Linked DNA regions of Homo sapiens. The gene in region 1 interacts genetically with each later gene. Each region holds a gene or a part of one and is shown on either strand. Other genes may lie near its edges.

Region 1 (3,500 bases):
ACGTTATGGCAGCTCTGTATACAGTTTGATCTCATGTACTGAAAAAAAATTCTTAATTTTATTGGAGTTTATACCACTGTGAAACTGCAATATGACTGTAAGAGAGTAAAAAGATTGTTACATCTATATTGTATGTGTGTACTTAATGGTTAAAAAGCAATGATAAAACTGGACATTAATGAAATTGATTTTTAGTTACAGTTGGAATAAGTTTTTTACCAAAAAGAAACCAGAGACGTTAGTTAAGGAGACTTAAAAAGATCTGAAATATGAAAAGAGAATGAGAAGATGAGCAGAAGATAAATTTGTGGGACACAAGTATAACTTGGGGTAGAAACTGGAGAAGAGAATCGAAAAACAATAATGCCAGAAGGACCCTTGGTATGAAAGTACTAATGGAATGTGATTCATAGAAAGTTCATAGAAAGTGAGTCCTTGCAACTTGAGAAACATACATACATATATATTTATAATCTCTAAAGCAACATCAGGAATCTTCTAATATATGATAAAGAATTTGTGTAGAATTACGTTGTTCACAGTATTATTGGAGAGACAAATAAGATTTCAAGGAATTCATTTATAATCAAAAGTGAAATGTGTCTTCTTGAAACCAGCAAGAAATAGATGAATTGAGTGAAACGTGTTGTTATTAGGAGAAGTGGGATAACGTATACAAAAAGAACTTGCGATCTGAATATGATCTGAATATGAGGGTGGATAGGAATTTTTTGACAGTGAAATCTGTTATGATGTAGTCTCATTTCCAAGAAAAGTCTTGAGTTCCATCCCCCCTTCTGAATTTAAATTGAAACCTGGACAGAAAACAAACTATCCTGTAGTTTCCACTGCTCAGGAGGAAAAAAAGAAATCTATATTATCTAATGCATCTTTGCCATCTTTATTTTCTAGAATTCTATTAGACTTTTCAATTATAGGCTATTAGGAAAGAATATAACTCTTAGAATTCCCCTAAATATAATTATCAACTCATTTGATTAATATGCATATTTTTTCCCGTAAGATTTACAATACACGTGTGTTTTAGTGAATTACCAATGGCTTGGAGAGAATGAAATTGGAATAACTAACTGAAAACCCTAGATGTTTGTAGCATTGAGACCCAATATCTTTTTGGAGGCCCTCTCCATGTTAGCTTATTGTCAAATTCTGGTGTGTAAACAAACTCCTTGACCCATGTTAAGTTCAGCATCCTGCATTTTGTTCATGAATCACATTTTAAAAGGAGAAAAGCTCCACCTGGTTTTCTTTATTTTTTTAAACAGTGATTTCAAAGAGAAGATAGGCCTTTCATAATTGCTAATTATACATATAGGATTAATAGTCATAAATTATAGTAAATAAAACTTGTACCTATTCCTTTTATAAATATGAATTGGCTAGGCACAGTGGCTCACAGCTGTAATCCCAGCACTTTGGGAGGCTGAGGCGGGCAGATCACAAGGTCAGGTGTTTGAGACTAGCCTGGCCAACATGGCAAAACCCTGTGTCTACTAAAAATACAAAAATTAGCCAGGCGTGGTGGCAGGCACCTGTAATTCCAGCTACTCAGGAAGCTGGGGCACGAGAATCACTTGAACCCTGGTGGCAGAGTTTGCAGTGAGCTGAGATTGTTCCACTGCATTCCTGGGCACTGCCTGGGTGACAGAATGAGACTCTGCCTCAAAAAAAAAAAAAGTTATTAAAAATAGATATTTAAGATTCCAAAATGTAGTTGATCCAGTTTGTTTCCCTGTAGCAAGTAGTGGGATTTGGGTTTCATGACATATAATTAAAATGTTAATCACATAACTATAATGCCAACAATTTTCTTTATACATTTTTGTTTAATTATGTTGACATATACTTTGTGTTGTACCTTATTTCATGTTACTAAATTTTACATAAAGATGCTGGTCTATTTTTATTTAATCATATACTGTTATGGTTTGAATATAGTTTGTTCCTACCAAAACTCATGTTGAAATTAGATTCCCCATGTGCTAGTGTTGGGAGGCAGAGCCTAATGGAAGGTGTTTGGGTCATGGGGGCAGATAGATCCCACATGAATAAACTAATGCCCTCCTACTGGGGTGAGTGAGTTCTCATTCTTGCTGTCGTGGGAATGGATTAGTTCTCACAAGCAAGGGTTACTAAAGAGTCTGGCTTTCTTGATTTTCTCCTTTTTGCCTCCTGCCTTCCCATGTGATCTCTTTGCACATACCTACTCCCCTTTCACTTTGTACCAAGAGTGGAAGCAACATGAGACCCTCACCAGATACAGCTGCCCAATCTTGAGCCTTCCAGCCACCAGAATCATGAGCCAAATAAAACTCTTTTTAAAAATAAGTTACCCAGTCTTAGATATTCTATTATAGCGACACAAAATGGACTAAGCTGTACTCTGTTGCATTAAAATGTGTTGTTTATATGCAAGTGACAAAAACTCAAAATAGTGTCAGCATGAAGGGCAGTTCATTGGCTTATATACAGGGAAGTCCAGGCAATGACTGGGTCCTGGGTCCAAACGTCAAAAGCAGTCATCTTGCCATCCTACACACTTGGCTCTGATTATTTTCTTCTTTATGGATTGGTTTTCTTTTCAGATTTTCCCTTTGGGGATATTCTGTATGGGATGAGGAACAGTGAGGTGAGAGGATGGTGGATAACAGCAATTGACATTTTCAGCTTACCTTAGCATAACAAGGCTGAAAGCTTTTATAAAGCAAGCTATGTAAAATTTTGGAGAAGTACTTTTATTTTGCCCAGATTGGATCACATTCCGTTCCTGAGCTAATCAAGAGAGGAATTCACCCAAAGGAGGGGGAAATTTTTAGAAGAAAGCCAGAATGTAGGGAGCAGGTGAGGAAAGGTAGTTACTGGGAATACGAAAGTAACACATTCATTGCACCCTGTTTGAATTTGAGTAGCAAGAAGTTTCTGATTTGTACTAACAGAAGGAGTAAAGTTCAGATTTAATCTGCAAGTCTTGATTGTTTTTAACTAGAGATTTTAATCTCTTCTTCTTATTATTGCTGCTTTGAGTTGCCATTATAGGTTTTTGGATTTTTTTTTTAATGCCATCCATTTTTATTTGACATCATGTTGTTGCTAGTTTGAGCAGATGCACATAGCATATGTTTCCATTACCAATTTGGAAATTTTTCCCAGTGGCATCAGCATTTGAGAGATACTGATTTTGAAATTAGAGTACTAGGGGAAAATGCTTCAAAAATGAAGACTACTTAAATAAAAATTGGCTTTAAATAAACCTTTGGGGATCTGTACTTGACTAAAAAGTATTTTCTTTAAACTTTGGTCTTTGAAAACTAAAGTGTGTGTGCATGTGTTCATTAAAATGACCTATAACATGAACATTTTCCATACTGGAGTGTGATGTACTGTACTCATTTTGAACTTTAGAACCAAATGCATCCTTTAGCATTTGATGAGCTGCTATATAATTCTATTTCCAGTTTTATTTTCTTGCCAAATAAAGT
Region 2 (4,266 bases), on another chromosome or scaffold:
AGACAGTGTGGTGATTCCTCAAGGATCTAGCAATAGAAATACCATTTGACCCAGCAATCCCATTATTGGCTATATACCTAAGGATTATAAATCATTCTACTACAAAGGCACATGCACATGTATGTTTATTGTGGCACTGTTTACAACAGCAAAGACTTTGAACCAACCCAAATGCCCATCAATGATAGACTGGATAATGAAAATGCGGCACATATACACCATGGAATACTATGCAGCCATAAAAAATGATGAGTTCATGTCCTTTGCAGGGACATGGATGATGCTGGAAACCATCATTCTCTGCAAAGCAACACAAGAACAGAAAACCAAACACTGCATGTTCTCACTCATAAGTTTGAGTTGAACAATGAGAACACATGGACACAGGGAAGGGAACATCACACACCAAGGCCTGTCGGGTGGGGGGAAAGGGGGAGGGATAGCATTAGGAGAAATACCTAATGTAGACGACAGGTTAATGGGTGCAGTAAACCACCATGGCACATGTATACCTATGTAACAAACTTGCACGTTCTGCACATGTACCCCAGAACTTAAAGTATACATATAAAAAAAAAAGATTAAAGTTTGAGAAGAGTCAATGTAAGTAGTTGGGAAGCTAGTACAGTAGCTGTACTAGGATTCTAGTGGTGATGGAAAAGAATTGAAAAGATTGAAAGCGAATTCAAATTATTTTTCAGATACATTTCCTCCTTGAAGAAGTTAATTCATTTCTTCTGCCTATTTTCTGAGATGGTTTCTTTTAATTTCTATGAGGTATTTCCTATTAAGGGCATTAGCCCTTTGTCATATCTGCTGTATTTTTTTTTTCTAGTTGGTTGTCATTTCTTTTCTTTGGTAGGTTATTCAATTTTTATGTAGATAAATCTCTCTTTCCTTTTGTGGGTTTTTTTTCCCACTAATTTTAAATTATAATATCCTCCATCATCTCCACTTTTTTCTGTCCTTTTTATCTCCTTCACATTAGAACACACTAGACTTCAGTGGTGGATGTGTGTAGTTCCTGCTTTCACAAATTCATGTAATCACCTAGTAAACATATGTGCTACACATGATAGACACATAAACACAGGAAGACAGAAACAGTTACATAAGTGTTTCCAGAGGAGAAAGCAATCTGGGTGCACAAAGAACAGACACCTAACCCAGACCGAGAGGAGTTAATGAAGGTTTCCTAAAGGTCAAATTTTAACTGTTTTGAAGAAGAACAAAAGTTAGCTAAGTGTGAAAAGAGTCTTTAATGACTCATCCCCTGTCATTTCCATCATCAAAGTCATTACAAAATTTGATATGAAGCTCCCTGGGGTTGAAATCCCAGGGACATTACTCTGATCTTTCATACATCACAGGTAACCTAATGCAAAATAGCCCACCAAACGCTTTCTGGCACAAAGCACAAGCTTAATGTATGTTTATGAGTAAATAGTAACTACTTTCAGCTTCCCTCTTCAGCATATCCTGTACTCCACTGTCAACTGAAATCCTGACTCGTTAATCTGGCAGCAGAGAATATATTTCAGTTTTATTTCCTTCTTCATCTCACAAGTTCCCATCAGTGAAGAGTTACTTATCCCTGTATTACCCACGGGTTCTTCTGCTACTAGCCCTTTCCTGCTTATACCAGTCCCTCTGCCTGGAATGACTTCTTCCCCTTTCCTGAATCACTGACTGCAATTCCTGTGCAAGATCCCTAAAGACCAAGGACAAGTATCACCCATTTCATTTTGCCGCCTTTGGAAACTTTTCTGCATTACTAGGTTTTGGAGGCATTCTTCACACATTGTTCTGTAACACAGGTGAGTGTTGCTTAGCTCTCTTACTTGAGTATAGGTTACTAGAAAATATGAAATATCCCTTACACTACTGTGTGTAATCTAAACAGTGACTTGCTCATAAACGGGATAAAGAATTTCCTTTCTGTATCTAACTGTGAGGTCCTTACTCGATCCTTATGTTTCCAGCTTACTTTAAGACTTTGGATGACATTATTTTGTTGAATAGAAGCAGAAACCAGAGGGGGATAAGTGGTAGAAATGGTATTTTGTCGACACCGCACACTATGGAAGTGACGGTGGTGAGAACAAATGTCTGATGAGAATGGACTGAAAAAGCAGAAAAAAGAATTGAGGATAGCAAGTATAAACAGCTCTTTATTGAAGTTCTGCTGTAAACGGAAGCAAAGAAATAGGACACTAACTGGAAGAGGAAACGAAGTACTGAGCATACAGTCTCATTCAAGACCACCAATTTCTTAGAAGCTACAGCTCTTACTTTCTCTCTTTCATTTTCGACAGGCAATAAAGAGCAGGTAATGTGTACTGAAAGTTTATTAAGGGTCAGGCACTTGCAAATACTTTACGTATCTCAGTTAATCTCACAACCCTGGGACGAACTATCTTGAGTTCCGCTTTACAGACGAGAATATTGAACGTACAGGCTAAAGGTTCTTCCCAAAGTCCCACAGACATAAATTCGTGGGGCCTGACACATGTCTCTCACTTTAGTCACCTGGAGACCGAAAAGGGAAATTACCGGTTGCCAAACTCCAAGTTGCGGGAAACCCGCCTGGGCCCACCACGAAAGTTCCTCCAACCGCACCCTCTATGCCCGCCTCCGACCACGCGTCTCAAAAGAGCTGGTTTTGAGGACCCTTAAAGTCAGCCCCATAGGTTCCTCGGCGCTCACCTCGTTATTGAGGTTCAGAGTTCCCGGCTGAGCCATGGTAGATGAAGGAATATGATCCGCCGCTGCCTGCACGTGAACCGGTCTCTCAGACCGCGGCTGCGTCGCCACGCCCCTCAACGGAAGCCTCTTCTGTCCAAAACTCATCCGCCTTCTGCTCTAGCTGCCGCCTGGGAACAAGAAACATTGACGCTTGGAAGGGAAAACCGGAACTGAGACAGAACAACTACCGGCGCAGAGGGCTACGCAACGGAATTGCGCGTTCCTATGGAAACCAGACGGGGGCTGGTAGCTGGGCAACGTCTAGTTTTTCAAGATTCGGTTTGTGTGTGTGTGTGTGTGTGTGTGTGTGTGTGTGTGTGTGTGTGTGTGTTCCCTTGGTACACTGCGCTCGCATTGTACCGGCCTTGGTTTTTCTCTCTAATGGCTAGGGGGGCGCTGAACGGCGGTGAAAGAGCTCTTCTGAAATGATCACTTGAATGAACGATTTTTTGCTTCCATTTTTTTAAATCTAGTATTTGTGAAGATTTCTGCTTTTCTAACAAGCACACCTTTTTAAATCCTCGCAGTTTTTTGTTACAACCTGACATTATAGCTGAGGTGCGGACATTTTTTTCCTGCACACTATAGAAGGGTTTAAATTTAGGGAATAAACATTTGAAGCAAAACCAGGATACACATTTGGTACTGCCTGTGGGAATGGCTGTTTATTAGCCGGCAAGCATAGGAGACGTAAGGGAGTGTGTTTGAATTAGGTAATATATAATTGTCAACACCTTCTAGTATTGACCATTAAAATGTGTCAAATGGTGGTCCAAGAGCTTTACATAAATTAGCTCCAAATCTCCACAGAAATCCAACAAGATAGAAATTATTTTCCTTTTATTAATATTATTTTGTTAGAGACCCAGTCTCTCTTTGTCATCCAGGCTGGTGTGCAGTGGCACAGTCATAGCTCACTGCAGCCTCAAACTCTTGGGCTCAAGCCATCCTCTCACCTCAGCCTTCCAAATAACTAGGACTACAGGAGTGAGCCACCCTACTCTGCTCTGAACTATTATTTTACAGATGTGGAAAGTGACTTCAGAGGCACCAAGTGCCTCGCCCAGAGTCACTTGCCTGGGACTGTCCACTGCTACAGGACTTCAAGTCCAGCTACATAATACCTGGGGTACAGTGCAAAATGAAAATCCAGGCCCCTTTATTCAAAATGCAGGAAAAACGTTTCTTCCGGCGGAGGGTGGTGGCTCATGCCTGTAATCCCAGTACTTTAGGAAGCCTAGGCGGGCGGATCACCTGAGGTCGGGAGTTCGAGACCAGCCTGACCAACGTGGAGAAACCCCGTCTCTACTAAAAATACAAAATTAGCCGACCGTGGTGACGCATGCTTGTAATCCCAGCTACTCGGGAGGCTGAGGCAGGAGAATCACTTGAACCTGGGAGGCGGAGGTTGCCGTGAGCCAAGATCACTCCAGACTGGGCAACAAGAGTGAAACTTCGTCTCAAAAAAAAAAAAAAGTTTCTTCCATAGCGTCTCTTGACTCATCATGGTGTTTGTTAATT

What was found. A genetic interaction does not mean that the proteins touch.
Region 2: changes in ZNHIT6 (region 1) and SRFBP1 together harm fitness more than expected from each alone (negative genetic interaction), as found in Homo sapiens cells (one large-scale study listed by BioGRID).

The regions. Positions count from the first base shown.
Region 1 is NC_000001.11:85,649,434-85,652,933, reverse strand, and holds part of ZNHIT6 (box C/D snoRNA protein 1), read left to right. Parts: 3' UTR 1-3,500. UniProt on the Homo sapiens protein: Required for box C/D snoRNAs accumulation involved in snoRNA processing, snoRNA transport to the nucleolus and ribosome biogenesis.
Region 2 is NC_000005.10:121,960,509-121,964,774, reverse strand, and holds the start of SRFBP1 (serum response factor-binding protein 1), read right to left. Parts: upstream 2,801-4,266; 5' UTR 2,743-2,800; coding exon 2,707-2,742; intron 1-2,706. UniProt on the Homo sapiens protein: May be involved in regulating transcriptional activation of cardiac genes during the aging process. May play a role in biosynthesis and/or processing of SLC2A4 in adipose cells.